4 separate regions of the Homo sapiens genome follow, and all the other regions are linked to region 1. The links come from fine-mapping of genetic effects on gene expression. A gene starts in region 1. Each other region holds a variant in brackets. All regions are shown on one strand. Distances are between the middles of the regions. Region 1 holds the start of HLTF (helicase like transcription factor). Region 2 has its middle 24 kb from the start of GYG1. Region 3 overlaps GYG1 (glycogenin 1). Region 4 overlaps HPS3 (HPS3 biogenesis of lysosomal organelles complex 2 subunit 1).

The links. PIP is the estimated chance that this variant, and not a neighbour inherited with it, causes the effect.
Region 2: its variant is the best candidate, but not a certain one, in a credible set for the expression of HLTF in subcutaneous fat (GTEx, PIP 0.85).
Region 3: its variant is the best candidate, but not a certain one, in a credible set for the expression of HLTF in lung (TOPMed, PIP 0.51).
Region 4: its variant is the best candidate, but not a certain one, in a credible set for the expression of HLTF in whole blood (INTERVAL, PIP 0.59).

Annotation. Positions count from the first base shown.
Region 1 is chr3:149,084,335-149,089,174 of GRCh38, reverse strand. HLTF (helicase like transcription factor) reads left to right here and starts at 2,642. Exons shown (of 25, transcript NM_003071.4): 1 at 2,642-2,858; 2 at 4,286-4,493. The coding sequence starts at 2,839. HLTF-AS1 (HLTF antisense RNA 1) reads right to left here and starts at 2,843. Exons shown (of 3, transcript NR_046648.1): 1 at 2,697-2,843. RefSeq lists enhancers at 2,280-2,797, 2,683-2,892, 2,798-3,315.
Region 2 is chr3:148,965,496-148,970,335 of GRCh38, reverse strand. No RefSeq gene overlaps it. Among named protein-coding and RNA genes, the nearest start is that of GYG1, 24 kb to the left of the region's middle. The variant C/T (reference allele first, on the strand shown) is at 2,612.
Region 3 is chr3:149,002,045-149,006,044 of GRCh38, reverse strand. All of the region lies in intron 4 of GYG1 (glycogenin 1), which reads right to left. Among named protein-coding and RNA genes, the nearest start is that of GYG1, 13 kb to the right of the region's middle. The variant A/G (reference allele first, on the strand shown) is at 2,498.
Region 4 is chr3:149,138,233-149,142,232 of GRCh38, reverse strand. HPS3 (HPS3 biogenesis of lysosomal organelles complex 2 subunit 1) reads right to left here. Exons shown (of 17, transcript NM_032383.5): 2 at 1,735-2,229; 3 at 1,045-1,216; 4 at 853-938. Among named protein-coding and RNA genes, the nearest start is that of HPS3, 11 kb to the right of the region's middle. The variant T/G (reference allele first, on the strand shown) is at 2,306.

The DNA of each region.
Region 1 (4,840 bases):
CCACTTTCCTTCTTACTCACCAGCCAAACCCCACAAGCCACCCTACAGTTCATTTTCCAGTTACAAGTGTTCATTTTTCATATCTACTTGTGATGCTGTTATCAGAATAAATCAAGAAAAAACCAAAAAAGTTAATTTTTCAGAAAACATTATTTAGTATAATAGTTTTGAAATTGTAATTGCTGTAACATTTTAATCAAACTAGTACAAATTGTACTTGATCTTTAAATATAAAACAAAGAATGATTAAGGGAAAGAATGTTTTACTCCTGGTTCTGGGATGTGAAATATTGATAACATAGAGAAAACATACTGTGGGAGGAAGAGCCACATATGCCATTCTTGGATTTCAGGCTCACTGAATCAAACAGGGGAGTGACATGACATGATTAATTTGCATAAAGGTTCTGTGTGTGTGTGTGTGTGTGTGTGTGTGTGCGCGCGCGCGGGCATGTGTGTGTGTGTGGCTGGGGGTGCAGATGAGAAGTGTGTTTGTGACTGGGAAGTGGCTGGATGGAGAAATTTTGGATTCCTTTCCTTTCCATACCATTCCTTTAAATAGCAAATTTTAGTTCATTCAAAGCACATTCTTTAACCATGGGACAGTCATTATTCATAGATCTTAAGTCTTTTTATTTTTTTGAGATGGAGTCTCGCTCTGTTGCTCAGGCTGGAGTGCAGTGGCTTGATCTCGGCTCACTGCAACCCATGTCTCCCTGGTTCAAGCGATTCTCCTGCCTCAGCCTCCCAAGTAGCTAGGACTACAGGTGCGTGCCACCACGTCTGCTTAATTTTTGTATTTTCTTAGTAGAGTCAGGCTTTCACCATGTTGGCCAGGCTGGTCTCGAACTCCTGACCTCAGGTGATCCACCCAACTCGGCCTCCCAAAGTGCTGGGATTATAGGTGTGAGCCATTGCGCCTGGCCAGTCTTAAGTCTGAAAGAGCTATGTTCTCATATTTGGAATTTTTTCTTTGTCTAGTGAGCATGACTTTCTTACTCTTACAAAACATCAATTTGAGCAATTTCTGGCATATTTTCCAAGAATTTATTTAAAATCTGGCATACTAAAAGCTGAACTGTATTGCCATTTGCCTCAACACACTTCAAGAAGAACATACAACAATTAAAATAATTTGAAATGCCATTGTCTTTATCTTCCTCATCAACTTTGGTCAAATGAAATAATACATTGTTTCAAATTCTATTGCTCATCCATGGTTCATGATTAGAGATCACTACAGTTTATTTACGATAATGAACAAATGTGTCTTGAAAAGCTGACTACCGGCCTGGCACGGTGGCTCATGCCTGTAATCCCAGCACTCTGGGAGGCCGAGGCGGGCGGATCACCTGAGGTCAGGAGTTCAAGACCAGCCTGGCCAATATGGTGAAACCCCGTCTCTACTAAAAATACAAAAATTAGCTGGGCGTGGTGGCGGGCTCCTGCAATCCCGGCTACTCCGGAGGCTGAGGCAGGAGAATCGCTTGAATCCGGGAGGCGGAGGTTGCAGTGAGCCAAGATCACCCCCATTGCACTCCAGCCTGGGGGACAGAGCAAGACTCCATCTCAATAAAAAAGAAAAAAAAACAAAAAAAAGAAAAAAGAAAAGCTGACCACCTAATATTATTGTGCTGACAGGCGTGTAACATGGACCTCTCTGTGACGCGCAAGTATTATCTGGCAGTTACATGGTGCCGCCTGTGCAGCTGGGCGCCACCACCAGCTTCCTGCCCTGTGCGATTAAAAGGCCAGCTTCGGGGACAGCAGCCTCCTCAACGCAAAGCGACCAGCCCTGCCAGGCGTCGGCTGCAGCTGGTCCAAGGTTGACGGTCCCAGGGCCGCATTCTCCTTCCGGTCACCTCAGACTCTGGAAAGAGAGCCATGGAGGGCCTCAGAGCGCCCCTCTGCAGTTCCTTGAGGAAAACAAGGGCCTCCCCCTCTTGGCTGGAGCAGCCAAGTGCCCACGGGGAAAATGGTCCCGTCCACCATTTCAGGCAAACGCCCCCATAGCTGTAATAAACATGTGATGGGTTTCCTGCACCAAGAAAGGAAAATTTTCCTTAAAAATAACAAAAAGAGGTGGGGAGGGGACTCTAAGTTCCATTTAAGATTTTCCAAACTCGTTGTGTCTCATGCATACGCTGAGGCTTAACATGAAAATTTGGAGCGAAAGTCCCCACGGTTCACCACAGGGAATGAAGTAAAGTATCTCGCCGGTAGCTCTAGGTCTCGTAAACCGTGGAGCTCCTTTAGTATAAGGCCCTATTATGTGCCACATTAGATGAGAAGAAAATAAGAGGAAGGATACGGTAGAGCCTTTAGAATGGGGTTCAGTCTTAGGACTCGTAGGATAAAGGAAGGTCGTTTCCCTCCGTTTGAGGCAGGGAATCAAACAAAACACCGGCACCGCAGGCACCGCAGTCGCACTCCTGGGGCCTCGTGGCTTTCCCGCGCGCCCGCCTTGGGGGCGGGGAAGAACCCGGATGGAACCACCCTTGCAGCCCGGACCCCCCGCCGTCTTTGAATGGCAGCGGGGCGGAGTTGCCCTCCCTTCTGTGCTCTGACTGGTTTGGCTCCGCACTCTCCTCTTCGTGATTGGGCTTTCCTAGTGCCAGTCACAGAGCGACGCTGGTCTCCCAGATTGTTGCAGAAGGAGACGGCGTCGACGTCTGACTGGACTCGCGGCGACTTACCTTTCAGTCGTGCGCTCCTGATCCGGCGCTCGGAATTTGTCCCCGGCTTCAGGGCTGCGGGGCCTGGAAGGAGGCGTATCGAGGCGGCTCGAAAACGATCCAGGGGAGCCGAGGCGCTCCTCTTGTCATCCCACTCAGCGCCATGTCCTGGATGTTCAAGAGGTGAAGGGGGCGGAGGGGGTGGGGCGCTCGGTCTAACGGCCTGGAGGCGTCCCCAAATGAACCTGACCTTCCCCGCGTTCCTCTGCGTTCCCTGGGCGATTTGTGCAGCTGTATTCGTTCTGTTGGTCGCATATGTGGCCGCCGGAGAAATAAATGCATTGTCTTCGCTGGCGAGTAGGGGCTCCTAGGGCGAGTCCCGTGTTAGGGACTTGGGAAATCTCTGTCACCGACTGTGGGGGGCCTGGGGCTTAAAGCATCTCGGCCAGTGCTTTATTTAACAAAACATCCATTAGATACCCACTGTGCGCCAGGCATTGTGCTCGGTGGAGGGCCGAGTAAGACAGTCCTTGTCCCCAAGTGGCTCACAGCTTATCTGTATGCACAGACGTGCAGATAAGTATTTGCAGAGGCGCTAGTAGAGATATGCGCCACTTGCAAGGAAAACGCATCGCAAATAAGCGACTGTTCTTAGGAGAATGGAAACTTTTTGCAATGCTCCAGTAGACTCCCCTTCACTTTTCATTGTCCAAATTGGTATTTATGGTCATTCCCGAAACAGTTACACCTAATGGGTTTGGGGTTATGCTTAAACCGGCGACGGAAGGCGGGTACGGGTGGCTTGGGGCCAATTTCCCACGGTGGCGTGGTTTGGATACCAGAATAGGTGTTCTGCTCGCAGGGAGTTACAGTGATGGATGCTGGATGTATTTTCTGGAAAATTATAAACAACTTCTGGTACATTAATAGTTGTATTTTTATAAGTCTTTTATATAGCTCAATCCCTATTGAAATTTTGGCATATGATTTCATTTTTTAAATTATTTTTTTGACATGGAGTCTCGCTCTGTCGTCCAGGCTGGAGTGCAGTGGCACAATCTCGGCTCGCTGCAACCTACGCCTCCCGGGTTCAAGTGATTCTCCTGCCTCAGCCTCCCGAGTAGCTGGGATTACATATGGGCGCCACCACGCCTGGCTAATTTTTGTATTTGTAGTAGACAGGGTTTCACAATGTTGGCCAGGTTGGTCTCAAATTCCTGACCTCAGGTGATCCACCTGCCTCTGCCTCCCAAAGTGCTGGGATTCCAGGCGTGAGCCACCGCATCCGGCCCATAATTGTAGTTACAGACATCATATACATATCAATTTAGATGATTTTCACTGGGAAAGAGGTTAGTGAACTCTGACTAGGCTTTTCATTTTGAATACCTAGGGGGCAGGTAGAAGAGCCAATATTGAAAACAGGTAGAGTTCCTAGAAGCCTTCTCCACTCACTGCAATTCCTGCTTTAACGAGAGTAACTATTAATCTTTACCGTGATTCCCATGTAAGATTTCATTTGCTGAAGTAAAGCATGAGAAAACTACTCATATGGTCTTTGGAAATACTTAAATATTATATTGTTTTTCTTTGCCTTTAAAAAAAAATAGGGATCCAGTTTGGAAGTACTTGCAGACTGTCCAGTATGGAGTTCATGGAAATTTTCCACGCCTCTCATATCCAACTTTCTTTCCACGTTTTGAATTCCAAGATGTTATCCCTCCAGATGACTTTCTAACTAGTGATGAAGAAGTAGATTCCGTTTTATTTGGAAGTTTGAGAGGTCATGTGGTTGGACTACGCTATTACACGGGAGTAGTGAGTATAATAGTAGATAATTAAATTTTGATTATATTTCTGGCGTTAACCTAGAAAATAAGAGAATTCGCAGGTGATGTGTGCGGTTAATCTTTATTTTACTTTAAGTTAGTTAAATATTTGTACGCAAAAAATAACAAATACCTTAAGTGACCCTCCCACCTCAGCCTCCCAGAGTGTTGGGATTACAGGAATGAGCCAATATGCTTGGCCTCAGTGCGTTATGTTTGGTTATTATGGGTAGCACCCCACCCCCACACCCCAGCGCCTTGTTCATGTCATCGATTTGTTGCAAAAAGGAGATCGTTTTGTGGAATCTTCTGGATTTTATTCTTTCATTTCTCCGT
Region 2 (4,840 bases), 120 kb after region 1:
GGAAAGCTGTTTCCTACTGTGGTACATTTACAACTTCTACAACTGCCACGTCAAATGTTCTGAGCTTTGACCTAATCAGTCCCACTAACTCCTTTAGATGTTCAGGTTTCTCAAAGGTATTCAAATCCCTGAAGCTGCCATTTGAGGTCTTTCAAGACAGGTGTTAAAAAATATATGACTTCTTTTTTTAATCATTAGGTTATTAAATAAGTTTACCAAAATATTGCTATAAGTCCATGTTTTTGTTGCTTTTTTTTTAATTGAGGGGGGCTGTTAGTAGCTTTTTTTATTTTTTTTTATTGAGGAGAGAGGAGCTATTTTCAAAGGGATCAAATTTGGGTGGAGTGAATGTAGAGTTGTTAGATCTATAGAATTGTCCAGATAGTGGCATCTACTAAGAAACATGAATAAGAATATGTTAGTTTCTTTTCTAAAATCTTAATAAGGGGGCCAATGTTACTTCTCTCTACTTCAGAAGTTTCAAAATAGGCCTTGGAAAAAATGTATTTATAAAAAGATTCAGATTTAAGGTTCAGAACAAACATAAGCTTAAACTAGTATATGTATGTGTTGAAGGTAACAATCAATAAAGCACAAATGAATGAACAATTTGATTTATTTGTGTTCCGTATATGTCTCTCTGTGGCAATATGACAGTCGAATCTCTGTAAAGGACTTTGGTTTCTAGATCTTAATCATTCAAGGCAAAATGAATATAATTTTACTTTGAGACTTCTATAAAGGGAAAAGGATTAACATGATATTTTAAAAGAAAATGTTTTACCGCATAATTTTGCAATGGATTTCTAAGACTCTTTGTGAAATTATGTGTTAATTCTATATATATTACATTGTAGCTAGAGGAATGCCAATGTCTTCATGCTGAGATTATTTGGTAGGGTTTGGGCTTATCTTTGTAGTAAAAATCAAATGTGGACTGTATTGAGACAGAAATTTGAGACTTAACCTGTTCTACAGAAATCATTTGCACTTACTAAATCTTCGTAGTTATTTTTCTCTTAAATTTATGTTGTTTTGCCTTTAGGGAGTTGATGGAAAGGCATTGTGAGTGTTTTGTGGATACAGTTAAAATTGTTTCATTAAATGTTAATGGACTTAATAGTCCAGTTAAAAAAAGCCAATATATTAGCCTGTATTAACCACTCAGTGCTGACATGGCTTATGTTCAGGAATTGCATTTGGGCCCATAGAACTGAATATCATATATGAGCATAGGTTAGGAATGGGTTTTGTTCTTTTGCTATAAGGAAATAACCATTTGGTTTATAAATGACTCCAAATTTTAACAAAACAGCTATTTCAGATGCAACCAATAGGTTTATTTTGGCCCAAAGAAAGATTCAGACATCTATGTGAACATTAGGAATGCAGCATGGCTCACTGGACTCAATAACAGACTAGAACTTGAGTTACATAAAATTCTGTAATATGCCTCTTTCTTTAGCACCTTTGCTATTAACGGGCTGTCAATGCTATTGGGAGGAATTAGTAATTTTACAATATTTTGCAAATGCACGAGGGATATTTGCTGATTTTTTTTTGGAATGGGAACTGTAAATAGGAAATATGTCTCTTGAAAAATGCATTTGTTCTTAGCTGATGTAAGAGATTTAAAATTATGCCATTTCCTCTTGATTAGATGAGAATAAGTGTTTTGTTTTTTGTTTCTTTGCAGTTTGGAGCAGTTAAAAGTACACTGTGTAGAAACAGCAAGGAAAGTAGGCTCAGCTTAGCCAGAGATTCCATATGGCCTCCCTTATTCTTGTCTTCAGGAATCACCAAATCATGTGTCTTTAGATACATTTTCATCAAGTCTTTTGAAATCAAACAACACTCATTTTAAAATAATCTTTTAAACATTTAGAAATATGAATATGTCATGCCTTCTCAACACATCAACCATATGTGGTTATGAACCATTTGGATTATATGTACAGCAAGAACATGATAATAGAAGAGAGTCTCCATTTCCTCCTTCTACTTTATAAAACGATGAGGAATTCAACAATGAGATCACAGAGGGTACAAAATAAATGCTTAGGCTGGGTGCAGTGGCTCAAGCCTGCAACCCTAGCACTTTGGGAGGCCAAGGTGGGCAGATTGCTTGAGCTTAGGAGTTGAAGACCAGCCTGGGCAACATAGCGAGACCCCCATATCTTAAAAAAAAAAAAAATTAGCCGAGGGGTGGTGGCATGGTGGTGTGGTGACACACTCCACACTCCTCTAGTCTCAGCTATTTGAGGATTGGTTGATCCCAGGAGGTTGAGGCTGCAGTGAACTGTGTTTGCACCACTGCATTCCAGCCTGGGTGGGAATGTAAGACCCTGTCTTAAAAAAAGAAAAAAGGACAGAAAAGCTTAAAGAATTTTCATTCATTCAACAAGTACTTTTTTATTTGTTTTGTTTTTGTTTTTTGAGACGGAGTTTTGCTCTTGTTGCCCAGGCTGGAGTGCAATGGCGCGATCTCAGCTCACCGCAACCTCCGCCTCCTGGGTTCAAGCAATTCTGCTGCCTCAGCCCCCAGCCCCGAGTAGCTGGGATTACAGGCGCCCACCACCACACCCAGCTAATTTTGTATTTTTAGTAGAGA[C/T]GGGGTTTCTCCATGTTGGTCAGGCTGGTCTCGAACTCCCAACCTCAGGTGATCCACCCACCTTGGCCTCCCGAAGTGCTGGAATTATAGGCGTGAGCCACCATGCCTGGCTCAACAAGTACTTTTTCGACCACTGTTTTGTTTTTCCACCAAAAGAAATTTAAAATCTGCACAAAAGTCTCTAACCATCTTTAGCTGTAACAATTCTAGCATGAAAGATATAGATTTGATTTAAAGAACTCAGTATAAACAATATTAAAAAAAAATGATAACAGAAATGGCTGGGGTAGCCACAGAGGAAAACAGGAGACTAATCTACGTGACCTTGAGGAAACAACTGAATTTTCTCGGCCTTAGTGTCTTCAGCCAATAAGAATGAATGGAGAGGCTCTTCCGCCTTGCAATTCTGTGGATCATAACAGATCATTAGTGATAATTATTCTAGTACAATAGGGAAGATTGACACTCTGGGGCCTCCCAGTGTCATGAAGTTTTCTAACATTCTCTCTTGTCTTTGGATGCTTTGAGTGTGTTATCTCATTATATAATGTTTGAGCTTTGAAAGCTGCTAGGCACTTTATTGATGAATGCAAAGCATATTTATTGAAAGAGCACATTTCTTTAGAATCCCTGGAACAAGTTTTGTTTGTTTGTTTGAGGTAGAGTCTCACTCTGTCACCCAGGCTGGAGTGCAATGGTGCAATGCAACCTCAGCTCACTGCAACCTCCGCCTCCTGGATTCAAGCGATTTTCCCACCTTCGCCTCCTGAGTAGATGGGACTATAGGTGCATGCCACCACGCTGGGCTTATTTTTGTATTTTTAGTAGAGATGGGCTTTGCCATGTTGGCTGGGCTGGTCTTGAATTCCTGACCTCAAGTGATCCACCCACCTCAGCCTCCCAACTCCTGACCTCAAGTGATCCGCCTGCCTCAGCCTGCCAAAGTGCTGGGATTACAGGCGTGAGCCACCGCCCCCCGCCCCCTGGACAAGGTTTTATGCTCAAGTCTTCACTTTGAATTTCTTTTATAGACAAATGGGGGCACTCAGGAAGCTAACAGGAAGAATGTAAGATACAACTAAAAGCTAGCTGAGGCAAGCCTGCATGGACTTTCATCCGTCTGTTGAATTTTGTGCAACTAGGTTATCTTTGGGAAATCACAATGAAGTTATTGCCTTCAAGACCTCAGAAGGGTCAGCTCTTCAAGAGTACTTATGTGTTAACTCAATAATTTTATCAATATCCAAAACCATAAAGTCAATCAGTCGTGGGGAAACTACAGAACACAGAAATAGCTAACATCTATTTTCTACTATTTCTAGGTACCATTGTAAGCATTTTACATGTATTAACTCATTTAATCATCATAGCAATTCTCAAGTAGGTACTATTATCATTCTTGTTTCATGGTTGTGGAAATCAAGCCACAGAGAAGTTAAATGATTTGCCTAAAGTCACTTAAATTATAAATGGCAGAACTGGGATTTGAACTTTTGCAGTCTGACTTCAGCCCATGCTATGTCCACAATATTACGGTTACCTCCCAACATGGCGAGTGATTTGCCATATTTACAGTGAAAAACATCAGCTGCTAAGTAATGAGAGCTTTCATCCAGTGTTGAAGCCAAGCACCACCCAGCTGGAGGTAGGGCCAGCTTTAGCCTTTAGGCTCAATAGGCCAGGATCTAAGGCCCATGATATTTTCAGGGACCTAAGAAAATATCTTTTAAAATCATAAGGAAAAAATGAATATGATCTAGCCTGAATAGTATTTGTCTTTATACCAGCATAGCCATAAAATATTTTATATATTTAGGGAGGAAGTCACCCGTGAAGGCAAAAGTGCCTAGGACCCATGAAAGTCATAACGGGGGCCTGATGGGAGGGTAGAATAGAAGTAGATGGGATAGGGACAAAGTTGTTGCTTGGAGGTCTTTCCAGAGGATCGCTGTGTGGTTGGTCCCTTCCTCCACTCTCCATGCTGGGGTAAAGGCAAGCTGCTGCAGAGCTCATCTTTGGCAAAGCTGCTTAACTCACTATTGGACCTTTGGCTTCTTCCTAGAGCCTCCCACCCCCACCTTCCTTCCTTTGCCACCAAGTGGGTGCTAGCTTTTCTCCTCTTCTTTCATGCCTTGGCTGTGCTGAGGAAGGTTGCAAACATGTTTTGCTGCTAGCCTGAAGGTGGGTTTGGTTTGATCTGTACAGCATCATAGAAAATCAGTCAGTTGT
Region 3 (4,000 bases), 83 kb after region 1:
GCATCTTGACTATGGTGGTAGTCACACCAATCTACCCATGTGATAAAGTTGCATAAAAACCAAAAGTGCATATACATATACACATACACACAGAAAAGGGAATACATATAAAACTGGTGAAATCTGAGTAAGGTTGGTGGATTGGTCCAATGTCAATCTCCTGGTTGGGGCAATACATTTTAGTTATGTAAGGTACTACCATTAGGGGAAAACAGATGAAGCATATGTGGGATCTGTCTGTATTATTTCTTACAACTGCATGGAAATTCTCTCAAAATGAACAGGTTTTTAAAAAACTCTTACAATTAATGTGCAAAATACAATCAGGAATTAGATGCTAAATTCCACAAGAACAGAGATTATGGCCTTTTGCTCACCATTATGATGCTAACATGTAGCAGAATGCCTTACACATAGGCAAATTATTTATGGAATGAATGCAAGAATCTTGAAGATATTCTGTAACAGCAGAAAAATTTAAACGACTTATATTCTACCATACAGGAATGGTTAGTATATTAATACTAACTACTCATGGAATATGATTCAGCAATTAAAACTAATGTCTATAAAGACAACTTCAGTACACTGTGTAATATATACAGCTACATACATTGTGATTATAACTAAGAACATAAACATTAATTAACATTTATATTACAAGAAAGTAAATAAAATAATAGTAATTGCATTAGGGGATTGGTGTAATAGATGTTCCTTCCCCCCTCTTTTTCCTATTATTCTTTTAATGCTAAAATATTAGTAATACAACTGGGGGCAAGAATGAGAACTGTGCTTAGATCTTTTCTTTCTAAATACTCTTTACTTTTAATTTTTATTATGAAGTATACTACCAAAAAAAAAATATATGTGTAGGTTATAAAGGATATTAATAATAAAACTCTACACATTTATCCAATTTGAGAACCTGGACATTATAACACCTTCTTTAACTGAAGCAATTCCACTTAAAATGACTAACAGCTACCCATAATGCAGTAAAGAAATCTAATTCCACAGAGGCCTAAATCGTAGTTGTAAAGTAGAACTTCCAAATCCGACCTGCATGAGCCTGGGAAACAGGAGTCAGAGCTGCTGATCCCTCAAAGTCCCTGGCTGGCTGCCTTTGGCCACAAAAGGCCGTTTCTGTTTACCCTCAGGTACCCTACAAACATCATCAGCCCATCAGCTGTGTGCCACAGGAAGGCTGGGAAGCACGGGGTGTACAGAAAACAAGCAAGGAAGAGAAAAGGCACTGAAGCAGAACTGGTGAATCAACAGTGCCTGTTAAATTGGCAAATCCTGAAACACTCAACAAGAACCTTGGCTCCAGAGGGGACAACACAGGTCATAAAACTTCCAGGGCCACTGACCTCATTATGTGACTACAAAGGTTTATCATTTAGTCCAAAATTGTGGATTAAAAATAAATTAAATGCCATGTAGAAGTCCGTAGCTGAATTTTTAAATTCAGCGGTCTAGAAATCTTAACCACCTTTTCCCAAATGCACAGTTCAACATTTTAAGGTCAGGCAAATGTTTTAACGTCATCAGAAAAATCTATGTATGGTGTTACCAATATCCTCTCTTTAGAAAAATCTTTAAATGATAGGACAGTTCAAAGCAGAATGCAAATCTAGGCACATCTGTATTAGAAAACATACAAGGATGCCCTAAAGACTGCTGATTTTCCATAACAAAAACCCTACAACTTTTGTCCGATACATTTTAGTCAGACTTCTAGAGGCAGCTTTATCTAATCTGACAGGTTAAGATAATTTTAATCTCACTCATCTCAGAGCCAACAAACATGATTAGCAGGCATCACTAGCAGCTGTGATCCGGTACACCAGGGTGTGGTAACACAGGTGAGAGACAGGGAGAAAGGAAATGGAACAAGGGGCACATCGCATCTGTTTTGCGAACAAAAGCAAGTATCTCATTCTGAATCATCCTTCCACCCGGCTGCCCAAATGCAAATGCTGTGTAATCACCTTGCAACTACAGACTTGGTACTTTCTAGGTCTTCTGAGCAGGGTCACATACCTGGTAACCATGGATGCATTTATCAGAAACTGGGCCTATTTGTTTCCTAAGACAGAAACAAGAGTTAAGTGGTGTCTTTTTAAATCTGTGCATTTGTTCAATGCTTGTGTACTTTGCGTGCTCTTCCACAGTTTGCTGGCAGCTGGCTTGTCTACTGTGGATAACAGGGCAGTGAGTTAATTCTGGTTTAGACATGAGCCCCAGCATCTCAGCCAAAGGAATGTTCCCCCTATAATAGTGCTCCTCAAACTGTGGCCCGGGTTCCAGCAGCATGGGCATCACCTGGGAGCTTGACAGAAATGCAAACTGTTGAGCCCCACCCCAGACCTACAGAATCAGAAGCCACATCTTAATCCCTAGGGAATTTGTCTGCATATTAAATTTGAGAAGTACTAGAGTCTTTTGAAGAACGACTTCTTTATTATAACAAAGGATAATAACTTTTAAAAAT[A/G]TCATTTCTATAAAAAATGTCTAACATTTTATAAATTTGGTATTCACATAATAGGAAGATTCAGATAGGTTCCAACTCTCAGATACTTCAAAATCCAAAAAGGGACAGATGGACAAAGTAAATAAAGTAAAAGTCCAGGCACGGTGACTCACACCTGTAATCCCAGCACTTTGGGAGGCCGAGGTGGGTGGATCACCTGAGCTCAGGAGTTCAAGACCAGCCTGGCCAACATGGTGAAACCCCATTTCTACTAAAAACACAAAAATTAGCTGCGCATGGTGGCAGGCACCTGTAATCCCAGCTACTCAGGAGGCTGAGGCAGGAGAATCACTTGAACCCAGGAGGCAGAGGTTGCAGTGAGCCGAGATTGCACCATTGCACTCCAGCCTGGGCAACAACAGTGAAACTCCATCTCAAAAAAAAAAAAAAAAAATTATAGTAAAATATGCTTTATATTGTAATTGAGCTAGAGACAAGGACTGACATGAACATGTGACTCACTTCTATCTATCTATCTATTATTTATTTACAGAGACAGAGTCTTGCTCTGTCACCCAGGCTGGAGTGCAGTGGCGTACCTCAGCTCATTGCCTCTGCTTCCAGGGTTCAAGTGATTCTCCCACCTCAGCCTCCCAAGAAGCTGGGACTACAGGCATGTGCCACCACACCCGGCTAATTTTTGCATTTTTAGTAGAGATGGGGTTTAACCATTTTGGCCAGGCTGGTCTGGAACTCCTGACCTCAAGTGATCCACCTGCCTTGGCCTTCCGAAGTGTTGGAATTACAGGTGTGAGCCACTGCGCCTGGACACTTCTTTTTAAAACTAACTTCCTACAAAATGCTTGGTGGATATAATCATTACTGCCTATAGTGAGCATGCTAAGGATTAATAAATTACAGCTTATGAAAGCCCAGCTCTTGGGGATATTTTTATGAGATTTACTGAGGATCATTAGATTAACCCAAGGTGGCTTATGGAAATCCAGGCACTTGGAGCTTGGGCCCCAGCATCACGGCATCTCACTGGCCTCAACCCATTTAAGCCAAGAATAACTGATTTATTTTACTACTTCATGTTATAGCTTTTGTTTTTCACTACTTTGTTAAAAGATTATTAAGTATCAAGCTATTAATTATTACATACTTGCAAGGAAACATTTATTCTTGGCTTAAATGTCAGTTTCTCAGTCTAAGGCAGGTCCTCCTAGTCTGGACTCTTAGTACTCTGAACTTACTAGAATCATGATTACATAACTGTGTATTAGTTGTTAGATGTCTGTAAGGTCTCAGAATATAAACTTTATAGAGGCAGGAATAAAATCTGTATTATTTACCAGTCTATTTTTGCCCCTTCAATTTAGGATTTTGCCCAGATTAGAAATTAAAATTATGTTTGAAATAATGAATGGACCTACTACAGAAATATAGGTGAGAGGAACCCTTCCAAGAATACATCTAGACTCCATAAAACACTGCAAGACGATGAACTGTGCTGCTGATTTT
Region 4 (4,000 bases), 53 kb before region 1:
CAGTCTGTCATGCCTTCTCCATGGCTTCTCCTAGCAGGTATGACTTCCCTTTCTAGTACTCATAGGTATTTGCTAAGGATTTTGGGCCGGGTGTGGTGGCTCACACCTGTAATCCCAGCACTTTGGGAGGCCGAGGTGGGCGGATCAATGAGGTCGGGAGTTCGAGACCAGCCTGACCAACATGGAGAAACCCCATCTCTACTAAAAATACAAAATTAGCTGGGCGTGGTGGGGCATTCCTGTAATCCCAGCTACTCGGGAGTCTGAGGCAGGAGAATCACTTGAACCCGGGAGGTGGAGGTTGCAGTGAGCCAAGATCATACCATTGCACTCCAGCCTGGACAACAAGAGCAAAACTCTGTCTCAAGAAAAAAAATAATAAATAATAATAAAATAGAGGTCGGGTGTGGTGGCTCATGCCTGTAATCCTAGCACTTTGGGAGGCCAACACAGGCAGATCACAAAGTCAGGAGATCGAGACCATCCTGCCCAACATGGTGAAACCCCGTCTCTGCTAAAAATACAAAAAAATTTAGCCGGGCTTGGTGGCGGGCGCCTGTAGTCCCAGCTACTCGGGAGGCTGAGGCAGGAGAATCACTTGAACCCAGGAAGTAGAAGTTGCAGTGAGCCGAGATCGCACCACTGCACTCCAGACTGGCAATAAAGCGAGACTCAGTCTCAAAAAAAAAAAAAAAAAAAAACAAAAAAAAAAACTTTGTTAAAGGGCCACAAGGAGACTCCAGTGGAAGAACCAAACCACCAAACCTATTACCCACATGGGTCTTCACTCCCAGCCCAGACAGAGCATTTTCACCTTGCTGCACTGTCGCACTCCTGCACTGTCATGCTTACCGGTCTGGTAAATGGGTAGCAGCTGGAGGGAATGTAGCTTGATGTCATCAGACAAGACATAGGACGAAATATCAGGAGCAAAACGTCTGTGGGTTTAAAAAGACAGAGAAAGGGAAAAATATAACTTCCATGTACTTTAAGCAGGCATATATACATAAAATGCTGGTAAAAAAAAAAAAAGCACTATAATACCTATAGAGCAGGTGCTGAAAGTGGGAATATTTTCTTTTTTCATCAGCTAATCCCGTAGACTCCAGTGTAACAGATAATCCAGACTGTTCACTTTTTTCACCAAGAAGTTCCAGGGGCTTCTGGCAGATGACAAAATCATCTGACTCAAGCTGTGAAATTTCATTACTGATGCCTTAAAAAAATAAAATGTAACAGTCCTGCTTGAATGAAAATTAGATTTTACAACATCCTCTCACCAATTAGACATATAGTAATTTCATTTATTTATAATATGCACACATTTACAAGGCACTGTGGTTGTGAAAAGACTTAGCACTTGCTCATTTAATCTCCACAACTGATAAAGTACAACAGGGTAGGTATTATCATCCCCATTTTACAAATGAGGATGTTGAAACTCAGAGATGGTATTATTAACCCAAGGTCATTCAACTAGTAACTATGAGGACTAGGACTAGAAGCCCCTCATCTAGCAGTGGTTGTTCCATTACTTCTACTGATAAATATATTCACATGCTACAGAGTAAGCTATGGACAGCCAGATCATAAAACCAAATCCCATGAAATAGGAATAACTAAATCTATAAATAACATGGCCGGGCACCATATATACCACAGACCTTCAGACTGCCAAAGGTGAAGGTTTTCTATATTCCTAAAACAAGAAAGCAAGTCAAATTCATTATTTACCTTCTTCTGTCCGTCTTATTCGATTGTTGGTCTTATGTGGATGGTGGTGAACTCTCTCTCCATTTTTAGGGCCTGACTCCAGTTTTACGATTAAGACTTCTAAGTCTGACATGACAGCAACATATCCAACACAAAAAGAAACCTCAACAGGAGTGATATTATCTATGTGTATAATTAAAGAACGTTCAAAGTCCAATAGTGAGAATTCCTCATTAATGATCTGGTACTTCAAACTAAATAAGACTAATTTATTTGTGCAGCCAACGAGAAGGTCTCCTTTCACAGGGCAACAGGAAATGCACAAGGGGGCCTCCGAAAGCGGCATTTCAATAATGTACATCTGGTCTCTGAAGGCTTTGCTGAATGGTCCCTCCACATTATGCCCAATCATTCGGATACACACACGAGAGTTTTCAGTCCTTTTATTTCTCCAGTTCACATAAGCACGTAGAAATGTAGCTTTGTTTTTCTCTTCAATTGCTACCAAATAATCTCCTGAGAAGGAATGAAGATTATACTGAGAATTTGTAATTAGAAATACAACCACCTCCCTTGCTGACATGAGTACTAT[T/G]AATGAATTCTAACACAAATGGTCGAATTAAAGACTGAATAGAATAAAACCCTAAGTAACAAAATCTTAGGTGTATTTTTGACTGACATTAGGCTTTGAGGTTCTGAAATGCAATCTCTCCCATCTGAGTGTCTTAAGACAACCTATTAATTGCCCATGTAACATACAGAAAGTTCATATAAGGAATAAAATGTAAAATTAAGTGTTTACTGTAGCTCTAAATCTGCAGTTCTAACAAAGCTCTACTGACACAGAATTCACTATTAGGGTGACACCAAAATTAGGTATACATTAAGGAATTCTCAGATTAGCAGAATTTACATTTCAAACCCTCTCCTTCCCACAAGTCACAAGTCTGAGAAACAGGATAAAGTTGGAAATAGCAAAGAAAATACAGATCCAAGTTAATTTTCTCTAAATTGTTGATTGTATAAGTTTTAACTTATAAACATATATTGGTTGTGGGAAGTCAAAATGGTAACGTGGTAAAGAGATGCAAAATGAAAAGCATAATGATCTCCCCCTTGAGGACCCAATGTTAACACACAGCCTGGTATGTGCCTTTCAACACCTTTCTCTCATATAAACAGAGATCACAGAGAGGTATTCTGTCTTTTTTAAAAATGAACAAAAACTAAAATGTAATCATATTAAATATATTTAACAATCTGCAACTTTTAAAAATTATTAATAAATCTCTCCCTCCAGGCTGATACATGGATATCTAACATCCTTTTCAATATGTTCAACATCCCATATGTACATACATACGCATAATTTATTCAATAATTCCCTTACTGATAAGCATTCAAATATATTTCCAGGGTTTTTTGCCACTATGTTTCATAGTAATACATAGGCTTATATCTATATATTTATTTACTGGGGGATTTATTTTAACGGTACAGATTCCCAAAAGTGAGATATGTTGGGCCAAAGGGCATGGGCATTTTAAATTTCAATATTGCCCAATTACTATCAATTAGATAATAGAAATTCATGTTACCAGCAGCAGTGCTTAAACACACCTGTTTCCCCACATCCTCACTAGCACTGACTCTACACAATGAGAGAAACATGGACTCTCACGGCTATTATAATTTACATTTCCTAGACCTTTTTATAAAGCTGGCCATCTTTTCCTACGTTTATCAGCCATGTATAGTTTCTCTTCTGCATGATGTCCAATTTTTATTAAGTTGTTCATTTGTTTTTCTTATCATGACACTGTAGCTCTCTACTTAAAAGGGATATAAACCTTTTGTCGTCTATAAATAGTAAATGGTTTTAGAGTCTATTTTCTGATTTTGACTTTGCTGATGGCATGTTTTACCATACCCTTTTTATTTAGAGTATACTATATGTATCTTTTCCTCCTTGCCTTCTGAGTTCCCATCCATGTCCTCCAAATTACATAAATATGCTCCTATATTTTCTTCTATTTTAGTGGAGGTTTAGAAAATATACATTTTTAATCTTTAGAATTTTGCGGGTAAAGAAGGAGATAAGTCAGAGGATCTAATGTCACTTCTTCCAAATGTAGACTCTATTATATTAACACTATTAAGCAAATTGGCCCTTTTCCGATGAATTGAAATTGAAATGCTGCCATTACATTGACTTCCCATGTACTTATGAGGCAAGCAAACAGGTGCTGCCCCTTTCTGCAGACATTCACTGGGCTGACCAGGCTCC